Homo sapiens: one gene and its partner. The protein of the gene in region 2 purifies or fractionates together with the protein of the main gene of each other region. This does not show direct contact. Each region holds a gene or a part of one and is shown on either strand. Other genes may lie near its edges.

Region 1 (8,263 bases), on a different chromosome or scaffold from region 2:
CACATTACTAAAAACACAATCTACATTCCAGCCAGGGCTGGTGGTAAGTTCAGAAGAAAGCCACAGAGGCCTTGAAAACCAGATTTCAGCTCTATGGAATGAATTTTCCCCTTATGTCCCGTCTTTATCTCAACCTCAGCATGTTTTATTAGCACCCCTAATTAGGTGGGTGTGGGTAGAGTTAGAGCAGCATTGAGTGGGACTGGTGGACTCTCCATCCACCTAAAGCAGCAAACATTAAAAGTCCCTCAAAAGAAAAGGGGTAGGGGAGGGGAAAGAATGGCCAATGTGAAAATTGCTGTGTCTCAAAGCATTACAGAACTGCTCTAGCATCCTAGTTCCCAGGCAGTTGTCCCAAGTCTGGGTTTTCTGAGACTTGGGTCTTCACTTGGCCATCTTTGGCCTCTGTCATTTCACTGTTAATGAGAGCTGCTGGCATCGTAGGTCCTAAGAGGCTGAGTCCCAGAGCAAGCTTACAGACAAAGAGATGCAGGCAGCACCCGCTAGATGCAAAGTCATGCCCAAACTTTTACAACAGCAAGTACATACAACACAGCACTGACAGTTCCATCTCAGTACAGACTCCCCACCTCATCTTCCCTCCCTGGCAGTTCCTGAGCCTGGGGTAAGGACACAGGTGTATAGAACAACCCCCCTTAAAATGCTAACCCTTTCTAGTAGGACCCACCTTGTGGGAGTGGCTTGAAAGAATCCATAATTTCCCAAGCCAAACAAATTCAGAGCTAGGTCTGTTCTTTTTGATAAAGCCAAATGAAGCAAGAGAGAGGGAGGTGAGCAAAGCTTACCAATGATCACCATCCAGTGCTGGTTAGAAGCCACTTTCCAGGAGAGGAACCAATGAACAGCGAAGAGTTGCAGCCACACAGCTGAGATCAGAAAAGACCACATACACACTTGGAGACTGTGTCCCCATCCCCACTCAATTCATTCAAAAGGAATTCTACGAAGCAGCCTCTTGAGCCTCATTTTCTTTTTCTTAGAAATTTGAAAACATCTGTGACTAGAAAAGTAGTCCTAAGAATTAACACCATCGTTTCAGCCTACCACATTGTAGTTTGGCAGGCCAGGCTCTGCATTCCAAGGGGGCAAGTGCTGGTTGCTCCAGAGGCCTTGAGGAGAAATCTAGGGGCAGACCAGGTGTGTGCTTCAGCTCCAAGTTTCTCTTGCTTTAGCAGCAAAATGCGGCCTCTCATCTCTACCAAAGCAACAGTGGACTCGTACCCCTCCCCACCTCCCAAGTAGTTCAGGGGATGGGGTGGGATGTGCGAATAAAAATAAAGATGAGTCAAGACCAGCATCTTCAAATTAACAAACTGTAATTGTTTTCCCAAAGATACATTTTTTTCATACACATCCATCATACACTGTAACCAAAAAAAGCAGTGTACATGAAATAAGAGAAAATAAATTAAAAATCCATAGCATAGGTAAGGAGGCTCTAGTCTGGAGCACAGCTGAGTTTCCAGCAATATAAGGAGGCTCGAAAGTTTCTTTTATAAGAATGCCTGCTAGCAAGGGTTCCAGCAAGGTGGTTGGTTGGTCTGTAAGTCAGTCTTGAGTACTTGAAACAGTTCTGTGTTTGTTTTTTTTCCTTAGCGTTTAGAATAGCCATCATTGTCCTGCAATAGGCAGAGCTATCACGTCCAGGAAAAATGAGGGAGGGAACCACAGAGGCAGCGTGAGATCCAAATACAGCATTCAAAGGTAATTGGTCCAGTGGTGCCTGGGGAGGGAGGAAGGGTGATACTCCAGGGTTAGCCGTCTTCTTTTGGGGGTGTGTACCAGCCTGCAAAGAAATGGAATGGTCAGTGAGGTGAAGGTTCAGGCCCACCCTCCCTGTCCTGCCCCAATCCCTGAAGACGTCTCCAGTGGCAGAGATAAGAGGATATTGGGGAGGGCTATGCTGTGTGGGGAGAGGTGTATGGGAAGCTGAGAGCCTGCATACCTGGAGATGAGAAGGGGGAATGATGTGCCCAACCTGAGATGATGGGAGAGTTAGATGAGCTTTTTCAAAAGGTGGTCAAGAAGGGGGTAGCACCAAGTTTATCGGTGATACGATCATTTTGGTGTGTTTCTGGAAGAGGTTGTGAATGTTAGCCACCGCCAGTCCCTCCTGGGAGAACTGGGGCAGGTGCTGTGTTAATGGGTGGTTGAGTATCAGAAACCAAAAGAAGGGGTTCTTGCTCTGTGGCTGGAAGTGAAAACCTGGGTGTGGCAAGTGTCCGAATCTCCTGAGTCCTGGCTCCAGCCTCACCGTTTTTTTCGTGGATCTGCACCAAGGACTTGTAGGACTGCTGTGCTCTTGTCAGACTGTATTGAGACTGGGGAGAGGAAGCCACCAGATCAGGCCATGGCTAGCTGTGGCCTTACTGCCCCTCACCTTCTGCAGGCTGTCACCCAGAGACCCCAGAGTCCCAGCTCCCAGCACTGTGGTCTAGTAAAACACTAAGTACCCTCCACCTTCGAGGTCCCTTGGAGGCATAATCCCATAGTCTTCCTTTTCCAGACCCGAAACCTCCCAAAAGTCCTAGGGGTGCCCCTAGGGGCCAAGGCACAGTTGTTCCATTGTGGGCACCCTAGGCCCTCTCATCCAATGCCACCAGCCCGGGGGCCTTATGCTCATTCCTCTAAAGAAGGCAGCCTTGGCCTGCTAGTGGCCCCAAGTGTACTTGGCTCCACCCAGCCCCACCAGCCCCAGGACCAGGATCCTTACTTTGTTGGCTCCAAACTGCACTCGTGCTTTCCCCTTCACCAGTGTGGCACTGATCTGCATGATCACTGACTCTATGGAGTAGGCACTGCTCCAGCCCTGGGTGAAGGGAAGGACAAGGCAAGCAGGTCCAGATGGAGCTTCCAGAGAACCCTCATGCTTGTCCTCTGGGCAATCAGCTGTGTCTATAGGAGGGCCCTTGCCCTTTGCCCCCAGCACTGCCACCACCTGTCTGTCTAGGTCAGTGGGTGCAGACCCAGCCCAGCAGAATGAAAGGGCCACATCATGTCTATCACCCAGCCCGTAGGGGTGTGTGCTGTAAAGCTCAGACAATCCCCGCCCAGGCCGGCCTGGCCAAGGAGGAGAGACAGGCTCACCTGTTTGGTGAGAAGTTCCATGCAGATGGCCCCTCCGCCCAGAACATACCTGCATGAGAAAGGTTAGTCAGCTGTGCCTGACAAAATCTCCAAGTCTCTTCCCCGCCCTCTGCCAGAGGAGATGCCCTCTTCCGCATGCCAGCCACTCACCCTCCAGAGAGGACTGGAGACACAACCCTGACAAATGGTGGGTCAAAGGGAAAGTTATCCTGAGAGAGAGAGAGACGACAATCAGGGGAGGGAGGCCAGCATCCTCCACAGGACTGTCAGGCAGACTGGGCAGCCTAGGCCAGAGGGAGAGACTGGAAAAGAAAAGTCTTACTTTAAAGGAAAAGTTAAGTAGAATGAAGTCGGCTCCTTCTTTCTCTTTGAGGATCTGGAGATCGTTGTGCAAAGCGCTGTCCTGGTCAACTCTAAGAAGCAACAAGCCTGGGCTCAGATGCCTGGTTCCACCTCAGGAGCTTCATAAGGGCTCCCCTGCCCTGGCTGGCAGCAGACCACGAAACCACTGCCCACACCCGCTCCGGGACCCTGAATGAAAATGCTGGATGGGGCTGCCCTGGAGATCCCACCACAGTAGCCCCACTCACACTCCTCCTCAACTTCCTCTCCAATCCCAGAGTCCCCACTCACTTGAGGAGTTTGACATTCCAATCATACAGACTGTCATTCACGAGTTCGACTGCATAGTTTCCTGGAAGGAGGGAAAAAACAGGTGTTAGTAGAATGGTCCAGGTGGTGAGTGGTCTCTAATGCAGACCCCTTTCCCAGACTGAGAGAAAAAGATCAACAGCTCTAGGTTCACCACAGATGGACATGCAACCAAGCCACTGGCTTGAGGAGCTCCATTCTTGGCCTGAAAAGTTCATAAGCACTCCTGGACCCCAGAACCTCTTGGGCCCCTTGCCACCATACCCTTCTTTATGGGTGACTCTTGTGCAGGCCCCTCTCTGGGGCAAACTCACCGCCTTTGAAACTCTGTGATCGGTATATATCCCTGAGCTCCTTCATCAGCCGGTCAGTGGCCTGCACCGAGCCAGACACTGCACCCTGTGAGGGACGGATGACAGGAACATTCCTTGGTCGTGTGGTTTATAAACACACGTTAGACCTTAGGGGCAGTCTGGCAGCTTGCCCAGGATTTAAGAAAGGATTAGGCACAAAAAAGGAGTCTGCTCTCCATACTGAGATGCGATGGCCTACTACTTCCCAGCCATTTCCCACCAACCCCTTCACCAGCCTCTCTCTAGAAGGCACGTACATTTAAGTAATCTTGCCTCTGGTTCTTTTTAATTTTCTCTAGGATGGCCAAGTTTTCTTTTCCAATGCCATCATCTTCAGATTTCTTGCCCTCAGCTGGCTCTTCCTCTTTCATTTCATAGTGATCTAAGTCTTCTGTGTCCTGGAGGAGGTGTGGGGTGGGAGTGAAAAGAAAAGGAAAAAAACCGACACAGGTTAGAGAATGACCATCACCTTCCCAGTCCCATTTGGCGAAGAGCCAAAAGTTAAAGTGAAGCAGTCCATCTAGCAGTCTTATAAACGCAACGTGCTTTCCATTTTTAGAACAATTTCCAGCCCCATTCCCTCCACAGTCTAAATCTTCAGCTCTCAAGCTACAGCAAGGACTTCGGAAACGAGCAGAGCTGCAGCTGAGATCGAGGCAGGGACTTAGCCCTCTTGTTTCCTGGACTGACCCTGCTCCAACTGTTCCTAAAACTCCCTTGGCAGCAGAAACTCTTCCCTAATTCCTAGCAGAAATGACTTGGGCCTGACCCTGTGACTCAAAGCTCATGTTTCACCAGGTGACTATTGCACCCGGGAGTTCTCAGGGCCCCAAGCCTAAAGGAGAAACCTGAATCATTACATCTCCTCTCCTCGCTACAAATGCAAGGCATGAATCAGGTATGCAGAGGCACGCACTGCCAGATGGAAATGAGAAAGGATGTCCAGAGAGATATATGGAAGAGGTCAAGAACAGAATTAGCCCCTTATTCATCCTGCTCTAAGTGAGCAAGCAACTAGCTCACTGAGCATAGGGAAGGAGGAGAACCTATGTAGGGTTGAGCCCCTCAGCCAGATGTTGGGGGTGTGGCCCAGAGGGCTGTCCACTATCTGGGAGGAGTAAATTTCATGTCGTCAGCCCTTTGCCAGTCTCAAGAACCTTACACGGTTATAGAACCTGGGATATTAATCTAATGCTAGGAAATAAAAGTAATCAGAGTGATCTCCCCATTTCTGGCAGGACATACCTAATTACCACACCAGCAGGTAATGTCTACTGAGTGTTTATTACATGCCAGGTTCTGTCCTAGGTGCCGCAGATACTAGCTCATTTCATTCTTACCACCATCACTCATTATTCTATCATTATCCATTTTATAGATGCGGAAGCTGAGTCTAGTGAGGTCAATTATCATGCCCAAAGTCACAGCTCTTAGCAGAGCTAAGATTCAGTCAAGTTCTGTCTAGCTCTAAAGCTCAAATTCCTAACCATGATTTTATATTCTGTATGTTTTTAGAGAATATATCAGATAGATTGTTTAGCATTTATCATGTATCATCTGAAGCATTTTATATATAACACCTCATTTAATCTCAAGACAACCATATGCAGTAGGTATTATAATCCTACTTTATAGATAAGAAAACTGTAGCTTAGTGAGATTACATAAAATTCCTCAATTAGGATAGCTAGGATGCAAACACAGGTTTGTTGGACTCCAAAGCCATTTGAAATTAACTTACCCAGTATTTGGTTTGAACCGCGCTGCACCTGTCTTCAGTGGTTGGATATGGGTGCCCTGTCTCCTCTACTACACTGGCTATTCCTCCAGGTCAGTAAATCTGTCTTTATTCCTTTGATATTTTTCTCTCTCCAGTTTTAGACTGGAGTTCTGGATATGGGTACCAATGTTGCTGACTGCAAGAGCTTCCAGCCAATGCCACCTCAGGGGGCAAGCCTACCTCAGGCATCTCCTCATCTTCATCTTCTGAAGACACGTCTTCCTGTGTGCACTGCAGCAAGGAAGGGAAAGATGGAGATCAGAGCCCCAGTGGCTTGCTAGAATGCAGCCTCCAACCTACTCCCCTGAGCCCCCAGGTCTGGAAGTTGTGCGCCTGCCTGTAATGCTGCCAGTCTCTCCACCAGCCAGATCTGAGTGGAAGCAACAGCCCAGGGAATGGCTTTGCTACCAGCCCATTATTTTTCGCCTATCACTGCCAAAGAATAAAAGAAAAGCAAAATGGCTGTCTCTGTCACCCACCTCCTAAATCCTAGTTTAATTCTCCTAAGAACCCCTCCTTTACTTGATCTTCTTTAGACTGATATTGCATTCTTGGTTCTCACCAAGGGGCCTGGGTCCCCAGTGGCCACCAACTGTTATTGCTAAGATAATGGTAAAAATTCCCCCGCTCCCTTTCAACATCTGGGATGCTGCCCATGAGAATGAATTTTGATATCAGAGATGAAGCTACCAGTGCCCCATTTAGCAAAAGAAGATTCCCATCTGGAGAAGAACGAGGGTGAGAGTCATAAGACGTGTATGTTTTTGGGAGCCGGTGGGGATGGAGAGAAACTACTGATTTGTCTCAATTATTTACTGAGTACCCTGTGGGGCAACTCTGCACAACAGGGCCCGAGGCTCCTCAGCTGCTCACCTGCTCTGCTGGCAAGGGTTGATCCAGCATCTCCACATCTGGATGCTGAGGGAGGTTATAGAGTTTACACAGGTCGGAGATGATCCTCTTCAGATGCTGCAATAGCTACAGGTAGGGGAGCACAGAGACATCAAATCCTTCCCCACTCCGATCTGGATAAGTGCATGGATGAGCTCTTAGTTTGGGCCCCACACCAATAACTAGTTCTCTAAGCCTTATGGGCCACGTGGCTGTGGGAATGAGTCTCCTGATGGACCAATCCCAGGGCCGATGCAGGGTCTCCCTCTGGCTTCAGTAAGCAACTCCCCCGAGAGGTCATCCCCTAAATGTTTAGCTGTGTACCGTCCACTTTTCAGGATCCCTTTCACAGGATGCCTTTGTGGCATGGGCCTCATAAGAACAAAATGTACCCCTACCCTGTGGCCCCCTCACCAGAGTATTCCCTTTCTTTATGTCCACCAGCCTCTCCAAGACAGCAGCCAAGTTAGGGTCATCAGACTCCACCGACCAGATGGGGGGCACAGCAGGGTATGACTCCTGAAGGGAAAAGAGCAATAAGAGCAATCAAAATGGGTGACTCTGGGAAAAGCCAGATTTTGCCTGTCCTCTTCCCCCCAAGACTTCTAGCCCCTTTGCTTCCCACCCCCACCCCCTACACACACATAAAAGCCCAACTTAGGTCAGCATCTAACCAAGCAGCTTCACAACAAATTCTAAACTGGAAGAAAAACAGTCCCTGGGAAGACCCTTTCCGAGAAGCAGACTGAAACCTTTTCTTTCTTTCCTCGAGAGTACAAACCAGGAAACCTAGCACAGCCAAACTTGGCTAACAGCGAAGGGGGACTCCTCATCTCCTGCACTGCCTATACAAGTTCTAGACTTCAAGTTCTCCCTGGACCCAGAACAGTCCTCCAAGCTTGCTTTTCAAACTCCAGAATCGGCTGAGGAAGGGATCACCTCATCACAATGACACTGAAGTGAAAAAAGCAGAGTTCAGTAGGGAAGAAGTATAAAAACTAGACTGTATCTCCAGAACCCAAGAGTAAAAGGGTACTGGCAAGAATCTACCCACACCACTTCCAGAAGAGCCCCTCAAAGACCAATTCTCCCCACCTCTCCCTTGGGAACCTGCCACCTTCTCAGTCCAGGCGTGGGCTGTAGGGCTCCACATGGCAGGCTGGGAGAAAGAAGCCTACGCTACTGACATTCCCAGCATTCCTGAGCCACGGTGCCAAATGCAGCCTGACCAGACTCCCTCTCTGCCCAAACCAAGGGGGCTAGTTTAGGCCAAGTCTCCTTTATAGCCATGGGGAGTCTGGCTGAGGACCCCCTAAATTTAACTTCCTGCCAGGGACAAACGCAGTAAATGGCCTCTGGCAACAGAAAGAGCAGCTGGATAGGGGCAAACCTACCCTTAAGGAATTAGAAGCTTAATTCAGGAACAAAATTAACTCGAGGTTCCCACACAAGCCAGGGAAACCTTATCCACCTCTACTGG
Region 2 (9,619 bases):
GGGCGGATCACGAGGTCAGGAGATCTAGACCATCGTGGCTAACACGGTGAAACCCCGTCTGTACTAAAAATACAAAAAAAAAAAAAATTAGCCAGGCATGGTGGTGGGCGCCTGTAATCCCAGCTACTCGGGAGGCTGAGGCAAGAGAATGGCGTGAACCCGGGAAGGGGAGCTTGCAGTGAGCAGAGATTGTGCCACTGGACTCCAGCCTGGGCGACAGAGCGAGGCTCCGTCTCAAAAAAAAAAAAAAAAAAAAGAACAAATGCAAAAACACATTTGATATTTGAGAGATTCATAAAAGCCAAAGAATAATTTACTTTGGATTTATGAATAGTATCTAGTAAATGAATTCAGGGCCTTTGAAATGGTTTTAACCACACTTCGTACAAGACATATGTACTAGGGCTGGGTCAATAGTAACTGAGTAATAATGTTCAAGTGAGACCATTAGGTTGAGTTAAATAAATTCTGGCTTAAGCAAGTTGTAGCTCTGCGCTTGTTATTTATAGCAGAGAAATGTCATGACGCTGCCAGAGTTGTAGGCTAAGTTTGTAGGGCAGATTGGTGGACTGGGGCCTCTGGAGTCATGCAGTCCTGGCTCGACATTCACCAGCCACCCAGCTGGACTTTTGGCAAATTACTTAATCCCACTGTATTTCCTTTTTCTTTTCTTTCACATGAGGATAATAACAATATCTTTCTCCTAGTGCTGTTAGGATTAGAAGAGAAAATCTGTATAAGGTACTTGGCACAGTTCCTGTTACTATGACTTACCAGTATGTAAAAAATGTATTGTAGGCAGACTGATCCCAAGGCACAGTTGGTGGGCTTCAATATTTTGTACAAATGAAAACTTTTATATGGTATTGAATTGAATGATATAACTATCATAAATTCTGACTAAATAATATGAGTGTTTATTGTAAAATCTATAAACAAATGGATTTTAAACAGTGACACAGCATATAAGGGCTTTGTTCTTTTTTTTTTTTTTTTCCGTTTGTGTATTATGTGTGCAGCATGGCTATTATCTATGGAGTGTTCTCTGCTTCAAATTTGATTACACCGTCAGTGGTTGCCATTGTAGGACCTCAACTCTCTATGTTTGCCAGTGGTTTATTTTACAGGTAAGTAGTGTAATCTTGCACTTATTTAATCAGAACACTTGTCAGGATCTTTCAAGTAGATAGTAAACTTCACAATAATTTATAGACTTGGACTGAATAGAATATAGGTGGTATTTTACGAATTTTGGCTCAGTACTTGTTGCTCAGGGATATCATATTCTAATGTGATAGGATGTATCTATATCTGCTTTTGTTTTATTGTTAATAAAAATAGTATCCAAAAGTCTCTATGAGGGTTGAAAAGAACATTCTATGAAATAATCTTATTTTCTGTCAATTGACTGAAAATATGTGGGGATTCAAATGAAATAACTAAATCTTTCTCTGAACTCTAGAACTATAGTTCCATGATGTGCTAAGCTTTTGGCAAAGAACACTGCAAACCTGTAAAATGTCTGATTTTGCAAATCTGAAATAATAAATTATGGGCCAGGCACAGTGGCTCACACCTGTAAATCCCAACACTTTGGGAGGCCGAGGTATTGCTTGAGCCAAGGATCACTTGGGTCCAGGAGTTCGAGACCAGCCTGGGCAACATGGTGAAACCCTTGTCTCTACCAAAAATAAAAAAAAATTAGCCGGGCTTGGTGGCACATGCCTGTAGTCCCAGCTACTTAGGAGGCTGAGGTGGGAGGATGGCTTGAGCCCAGGAGGTGGAGGTTGCAGTGAGCTGTGATGGTACCACTGCACTCCAGCCTAGGCAATGGAGTGAGACCCTGTCTCAAAAAAATTAATTAATTAAGAAATGAGAAAGTTGATTGTGTCCCTTTTTTCAAAACTGGAGCGATCCTTTACAGGTTGAGTTTTAAAAGAAGAGAATGTCAGAACTGATTCCTAGAAGGCATAATTGGCATTCTATTTCAGGTATCGTTTGACTGTAATACCTTGACCTGTTATATTTTAGCATGTACATTGCCGTTTTCATCCAGCCTTTCCCGTGGTCCTTCTACACAGCCTCTGTTTTCATTGGAATTGCTGCTGCTGGTAAGCATTTTGATTTTTAACTTCTCTGCTTTCTTTTCTGGGGCCTATCTAAGGGTATTATTTATGTGTTTAGTATGTGACTCTAAGTGAATTTCTTTCCCTTGATAAACTTTTGGGTTGAATTTTAGTGCTTTGGACAGCACAAGGAAACTGCCTGACAATCAATTCGGATGAGCACAGCATTGGGAGAAACAGTGGGATTTTCTGGGCACTTCTGCAGTCTAGGTAATTATCCTTTTGAGGTTCAGTCTTTCCTTTTCTTTCTTTTTTTTCTGTCATACCATTTTTTAGGTCTTTGGTTGACAATTTGGATCTTCCATGTTACGTGACTTAAGTTCTAGCTAAATGTGACGTGATTCCAATTTTATAGAATCACTTGTAATAATGGCTGAGTATGGTGGCTCACTAGCTACTCAGGACTATTTATACCAATACTGAATATAGCATACTAACTTTTTTTTTTTTTTTAAATGAGACGGTGTCTCACACTGTCACCTGGGCTGGAGTGCAATGGCACGATCTCGGCTTACTGCAAGCTCTGCCTCCTGGATTCAAGCAATTCTCCTGCCTTAGCCTCCTGAGTAGCTGGGATTACAGGCGCCCACCACCACGCCCGGCTAATTTTTTTTGTATTTTTAGTAGAGACGGAGTTTCACTATGTTGGCCAGGCTGGTCTCGAACTCCTGACCTTGTGATCCGCCCGCCTTGGGCTCCCAGAGTGTTGGGATTACAGGCGTGAACCACCGTGCCTGGCCTTAACATTTTTCTTAAGAAGAAAGCAAAACAGCTATTCTGCTCTTGACTGTTGGATTTCTGGAATCTCTTCTGAGGAATCACCCTCATGAATCGCGCCTAAAATTTTGGCCTTGACAAGGCTTAACAAATGCAAATGTTACATTTTAAAGAGTTGTATATTAAGAAACTAGTGTGTAAGTGAATGATTTTTCAGGAAAGTATGCTAAAGAAAGTATTTGATTAGATGCAGATAACTAAATCATGGATTTTTAGAAACAGATTCTTTAAAATTTAGCTTAAGCTTATTTCCAGGGAGTCATTTCCAGAGTTGCAATAAATCACATGTTTCAAAGTGAGTCAATTCTTCTTTGAAGGGTGCCTCTGAATCAGGTTACTGTCACATGGAAGGAGACTGAATTCCATCTGGGGCAGTTAAGTTTATCAGAGTCCAGATGAAGCTGATACTTTTAAATGACCCAGGACAGGTAGATACTTTAAAAATGATGTCCTTCTCTCTCCCTCTCTTACAACAAATAATGGGAATAATTATTTTTAAAAAACTATAAATATTAAAATAATTACCCAACATCCTATCCTCCCTTTTCTTCCCCCAGCTTGTTCTTTGGAAATCTCTACATATATTTTGCCTGGCAAGGGAAAACTCAGATATCAGGTTTGTTTTATTCGCGTTGCTTTATTCAGATATGTTCAAAGCATAATAGGAGTTATATAGAAATACCCATTATTGCTTTATTCAAGCATCGTTCTCATGAACCCCGACACCTCAAGTTCTCGCAGATTTTAGCTTTTAGTAAGACTTTTCCTTGGTTTATATTATTATTATTATTTTGAGATGGAGTTTCACTCTTGTTACCCAGGCTGGAATGCAATGGTGCCATCTTGGCTCACCGCAACCTCCGCCTCCCGGGTTCAAACAGTTCTCCTGCTTCAGCCTCCCAAGTAGCTGGGATTACAGGCCTGCACCACCACGCCCAGCTAATTTTGTATTTTTAGTAGAGATGGGTTTCTCCATGTTGTTCAGGCTGGTCTCAAACTCCTGACCTCAGGTGATCCGCCCTCCTCAGCCTCCCAAATTGGTGGTATTACAGGCCTGAGCCATCCCTCCCAGCCTGGTTTCTATTACTAAACTAGGATTATAGTTTATGACTATGCTTTAAGGGGCTTCTCAGGGTCTAAGGGAAGGTTATGCTGTGCACGAGCTTACGAGAATACTGCGCACGAGTATGTGGTTCTCAGAAGACTTCTGAATGCTCAGTTGTTTTCTCTGGACCCTTCTTTGATTAAAAGAAGGCGATTAAGCCCTTGTGCTGTTTTTCTTTGGCTTATTCATATTTCTCTAACTGAAAGACAAAGGTGAAGGTATCCTATTTGTCTCCTTTTCCTAGGTTTTTACTGATGCATTAAAGTAAAAATGTAACGAGGAAGTGTGTTGACAGTTGTAAGCAGCCCTTGTACCGTGATACTAATTCTGGAATTGTTTGGTCGATACTATCTTGTTTCTTCTTTTTTCTCCGTAGAGAGTGACCGAAGAACAGTGTTTATTGCCCTAACGGTGATTAGCCTTGTGGGGACAGTTCTATTCTTTCTCATTCGGAAACCAGATTCTGAAAATGTCCTAGGAGAAGATGAGTCTTCTGATGACCAGGACATGGAAGTCAACGAGTAAGATGTTGGAAACATTCTATTTTATTTTAAAATAGATTTTGAGTAGATCTAGTCTAGAGATTACCAACCCGTTTAGCCCTAACTGATGTCCAGTACTCTCTGTAGGTTACCACAGGCAAGAAAAGGAAGAAAATAAAGGAGGAGCTGCGAGGGAGGAAGAAAAAAAAGGTCACCAGAGGAAGGGAGGTGGTGAAAAGGTGCACAGGGAAGTTGAGTCTGTTCCTGGCCTTGCCACTGATGTGTGTGACCCTGGACAGTGGCAGCAATTCCTTTCATGTCTCCAGGCCTCAGCTTTCTCACTCAATCCATATGTTTCCATGGGCAAGGAAATAGAAGGCAGTGTTGACCTTGGTTACTGTTTCTGTGATCCAGCTCTAAAGCTTTCCTGTTCTTGTGGTGTGAGTGAGTGGCAGGGCCAGTGATGGTTGTCACAGATGAACCTTGGTTATCACTAGGCTCTTGCTTATGGTGTCCGGCTCTTGCACTAACTTACATAGGCGGTTTTCCCCAGAGTGGTCCAAATAGGGGAATGAGTATACAACCCTGTGTTTTGTAAAAATTGTAAATTACCTAAGCACATTTCAGTTTCAGGTGACACTATTTAAGCATGACAGGCTAGTGATCTGCAGTATCATTTAGATTTGAGGAAGGAGAGATGAGAAATTAATCTCTGCCACCCTTGTTTTGCTTTGTTTGTGATACATTGTGAAGATTGCCTTATAGCATTTTATATATTGTTAAAACTTTCGCATTGAGCATCCCATGCTGACTTTGTAATCCAGAAAGGGCCTAAAATTGTCCAGTCATAGGAGCATTAGATGCTCCAGATTTGCAGTAAGTTTGTGTAAAGCAGAAGCAAGGCAGCGCTTTGGTCTGGATATGCTGCCATGCCCTGCTTTCTTGCTCTTTATTGTGCTTCACAGACACTGGGTTTTTTACAAATTGAAGGCTTGTGGCAACCCTGCATCGAGTAAGTCTTTCTCTCCATACCACTTTTCCAACAGCGTGTGGTCACTTTGTGTCTCTCTGTCACATTTTGGTAATTCTCACAATACTTCAAACATTTCATTCTTATGACATCTGTTATAAGATGTGATCGGTAATCTTTGATGTTACTATTGCAATTGTTTTGGGGCACCACAAACCAGATCCATATAAGGTGGTGAACTTAATTGATAAATGTTGTGTGTGTTCTGACTGTTCCACTGCAGGCCATCCCCCATCTCCCTCCCTCTTCTCCTGAGACACAGCAATATTGAAATTAGGCCAGTTAATGACCCTACAATAGCCTCTATGTGTTAAAGTGAAAGGAAGACATGCATGTCTCTCACTTTATTATTTACTTATTTATTTATTTATTTATTTATTTATTTTTTGAGACGGAGTCTCGCTCTGTCACCCAAGCTGGAGTGCAGTGGCATGATCTCGGCTCACTGCAGCCTCTGCCTCAGCCTCCCAAGTAGCTGGGATTACAGGCATGCACCACCACACCCGGCTAATGACTAATCAAGAAATGACTAAGCTTAGCAAGGAAGACATGTAGAAAGCTGAGACAGGCTGAAAGCTATGCCTCTTGTGCCAAACAGCCAAGTTGTGAATGCAAAGGAAAAGTTTTTGAAGGGACTCAAAAGAGCTACTCCAGGGAACACACGAATGATAAGAAAGTGAAACAGCCTTATTGCTGATACGGAGAAAGTTTTAGTGGTCTGGATAGAAGATCAACCCAGCCACAACATTCTCTGAAGCCTAATCCAGAGCAAGTCCCTCTCTTCAATTCTGTGAAGGCTGAGAGACGTGAGGAATCTTTAGAAGAAAAATTTGAAGCTAGCAGAGGTTGGTTCGTGAGGATCAAGGAAAGAAACCATCTCCATGACATAAAAGTGCAAGGTGAAACAGCAAGTGCTGCTGGAGAAGCTGCAGCAAGTTATCCAGAAGATCTGGCCATTATAATTGACAAACGTAGCTGCACTAAACAACAGGTTTTCAATGTAGACCAAACAGTCTTACATTAAAAGATGCCATCTAGGAATTTTATAGCTAGAGAGAAGTTAATGCCGGGCTTTAAACCTTCAAAGAACAGGCCGACTCTTGTTAGGGGATAATGCAGCTAATGACTTGAAGTTGAAGCCAGTGCTCATTTACCATTCCAGAAACCCTATGACCCTTAAGAATCATGCTTAATCTACTCTGCCTGGGCTCTAGAAATGCAGTGACAAAGCCTGGATGGTAGCACATTTGTTTACGGCATGGCTTATTGACTATTTTAAGCCCACTGTTGAGACCTACTGCTCAGAAGAAAAGGTTCCTCTCAAAATATTACTGCTTATTGACAATGTACCTGATCAGCCAAGTGCTTTGTTGGAGGTGTACAAGGAGATGAATGTTGTTTTCATGCCTTCTAACAACATGTGTTCTGCAGCCCCTGGATCAAGGAGTAATTTCCATTTTTTTTTTTTTGAGACAAAGTCTTGCTCTGTCACCCAGGCTGGAGTGCAGTGGCGGGATCTCGGCTCACTGCAACCTCTGCCTCCCGGGTTCAAGAGATTCCTCCTGCCTCAGCCTCCTCAGTAACTGGCATTACAGGCGTGCACCACCATGCCTGGCTAATTTCAACTTTCAAGTCTTATTATTTAAGAAATACATTTCATGAGGATATAGCTGCCATAGATAATGATTCTTCAGATCTAAGCAAAGTAAATTGTAAACCTTTTGAGAAGGAGTCATCATTCTAGGTAGGTCACATTAAGAACATCTGTGCCTGGGGCTGGGTACAGTGGCTCACGCCTGTAATCCCAGCACTTTGGGAGGCTGAGGCAGGTGGATTGTTTGGGCTTAGGAGTTTGAGACCAGACGGGGCAACATGGTGAAACTTTTTTTTTTTTTGAGATGGAGTCTCACTTTTTCACCCAGGCTGGAGTGCAATGGCGTAGTCTTGGCTCACTGCAACCTCTGCTTCCCAGGTTCAAGTGATTCTTCCGCCTCAGCCTCCCGAGTAGCTGGGACTACAGGCACATGCCACCATACCCAGCTAATTTTTGTATTTTTAGTAGAGACGGGGCTTCACTATGTTGGGCAGGCTGGTCTCGAACTCCTGACCTCGTGATCCACCCGCCTTGGCCTCCCAAAGTGCTGGGATTACAGGCGTGAGCCACCGCGCCTGGCAAAACATTTTGTTTTAAAGCACAAACCAGTAGTTACTGGAGAAGGAGTCTGTGAAAGTGAATACCACAAATTCAATGAAAACTGACCCCCCCATTCAGCCAGCACATGTTTGGTGTTGGTCCTAGAGGACAAATGCCGCCCATCCCTGTTTTTAAGGAACTGCCAAGTTGGGGAGGTGGATGAGGGGTTCTGTAACTGTGAGCTGGCGTTCTTCTAGAAATACTGCTCAGCCTTTGTAGCATTCTCTCTTCCTGAATCGTCTCCTAAATTTGGAGCTTCTGTGTCTTTGTTCTACAAATAGCACAGACTTGTGGCAGCCCTCTTCTATGCCTGAGGGATATAGGCGTGAACAAGACAGATAAGTCCTTGTTCTTACGGGACTTAATTTTAGAGGGGGTGGTAGACAATGCACGTGTAAGAAAATAGCAAAGTGAGTGTTAGGAAGACTGTGAAAGAGGGGGAGAGTGGGGGGGAGGGGGGAGAGTGGGGTGGCTCCCTGAGACGTGGCTGGTGAGACATGAAGGTCAGCGGGTGGCCTTTGCCAAAGCCAGGCAGTGGGAAGGGCGTGGTGGGCTCTGGTCTCCAAGAAGGAAGAAGTGGAAGCAGTAGACAGGGTCAGATTATGTAAGCCAAGATAGGAGGTTTGTGTTTTCTTCTTAGTGTGATTAGAAGCTGTTGAGGGTATAAGTAGAATTCTGTTTTAAAGGTTCCCACCTAAAGGCCTCACAGAAAAAGATTTGAAGAGGTCCAAAGAGACAGCTCTGTCTGTCTTCTGGCTGGGCACAGTGGCTCCTGCCTGTAATCCCAGCACCTTGGGAGGCTGAGGCAAGAAGATCGCTTGAGCCCTGTTTGAAATCAGCCTGGGCAACATAGCAAGACCTAGTCTCTACTTAAAAAAAAAAAAAATGAGCCAGGTGTGGTGGTGCACGCCTGTAGTCCCAGCTACTTGAGAGGCCGAGGTAGGGGGAAGCTTCAGCAAAGGGATTCAAGGTTGCAGTGAGCTGTGGTCACGCCGCTGCACTCCAGCATGGGCAACAGAGCAAGACCCTGTCTTAAAAAAAAAAAATCTGTCCTCTATCTCAAGTGCGTAATTTGCATCTCTGAGGACTTATTAGCTGGGTGATCTCTGGGTGTTTCTTCATTGGCAGTTACTTCTATCCTCCTTCTCCCCTCCTCCCTGTATTCTTTCCTTCCTCTCTTCTTTCCTCCCTCTATCCTTTCACTTCTTACCTTCCTGCATTCATCCTTTCTTTCCCTTCCCTCTCTCCCACCCTCCCTTCCTCTCTCCCTTCTTTTCTTCCTTCCCCTATATTTGAGGTTCTCTGATATTCCAAGCATTGTGCTAAATAAAACAGAAGTTTGTGCATTCATGGAGCTTACTTTCTAGTTGGTGACAGAGAGAAAAGAAACAGGCAGGTTTTAAAAATAGCTTTATTGAGATATAACTCATATACTATATAATTCACCCATCTAAAGTATACACTTCAGTGCTTTTGAGTATATTCACAGAGTTGTGCGTCCATCATTGAAACCAATTTTAGAATATTTTATGAATACTTTTATTACCCCAAAAAGGAGCCACAGGATGAATGTGATGGCCCATGCTTGGCCTGTGGTTCCTTTTCCAGGTAATAAAAATCATAGCACTTTGGGAGGCCGAGACAGGCGGATTGCTTGAACCCAGGAATTTGAGATTAGCCTGAGCAACATGGCGAAACACCATCTCTACCAAAAAAAAAATACAAAAATTAATCAGGCATGGTGGCGCATGTCTGTGCTCCCAGCTACTTGAGAGACTGAGGTGGGAGAATCGCTTACGCCCAGGACGCGGAGGTTGCAGTGAGCCAAGATAATCACACCACCACACTCCAGCCTGGGTGACAGGGAGAGAGCCTGTCTCAAAAAAAAAAAGAAGAAGAAGGAAC

Evidence for each region.
Region 1: the proteins of MFSD11 (region 2) and UBE2Q1 purify together in Homo sapiens (affinity purification with mass spectrometry; 2 studies listed by BioGRID and IntAct, with this or other methods). This does not show direct contact.

What each region holds. Positions count from the first base shown.
Region 1 is NC_000001.11:154,548,663-154,556,925, forward strand, and holds part of UBE2Q1 (ubiquitin-conjugating enzyme E2 Q1), read right to left. Parts: intron 7,303-8,263; coding exon 7,198-7,302; intron 6,871-7,197; coding exon 6,766-6,870; intron 6,367-6,765; exon of another isoform or gene 6,124-6,366; coding exon 6,073-6,123; exon of another isoform or gene 5,988-6,072; intron 5,011-5,987; exon of another isoform or gene 4,947-5,010; intron 4,511-4,946; coding exon 4,370-4,510; intron 4,159-4,369; coding exon 4,074-4,158; intron 3,803-4,073; coding exon 3,742-3,802; intron 3,522-3,741; coding exon 3,431-3,521; intron 3,318-3,430; coding exon 3,259-3,317; intron 3,158-3,258; coding exon 3,109-3,157; intron 2,831-3,108; coding exon 2,735-2,830; intron 2,343-2,734; coding exon 2,276-2,342; intron 1,808-2,275; coding exon 1,776-1,807; 3' UTR 1-1,775. UniProt on the Homo sapiens protein: Catalyzes the covalent attachment of ubiquitin to other proteins. May be involved in hormonal homeostasis in females. Involved in regulation of B4GALT1 cell surface expression, B4GALT1-mediated cell adhesion to laminin and embryoid body formation.
Region 2 is NC_000017.11:76,739,938-76,749,556, forward strand, and holds part of MFSD11 (UNC93-like protein MFSD11), read left to right. Parts: intron 1-1,019; coding exon 1,020-1,127; intron 1,128-1,991; exon of another isoform or gene 1,992-2,031; coding exon 2,032-2,111; intron 2,112-2,239; coding exon 2,240-2,336; intron 2,337-3,460; coding exon 3,461-3,519; intron 3,520-4,384; coding exon 4,385-4,529; intron 4,530-9,619.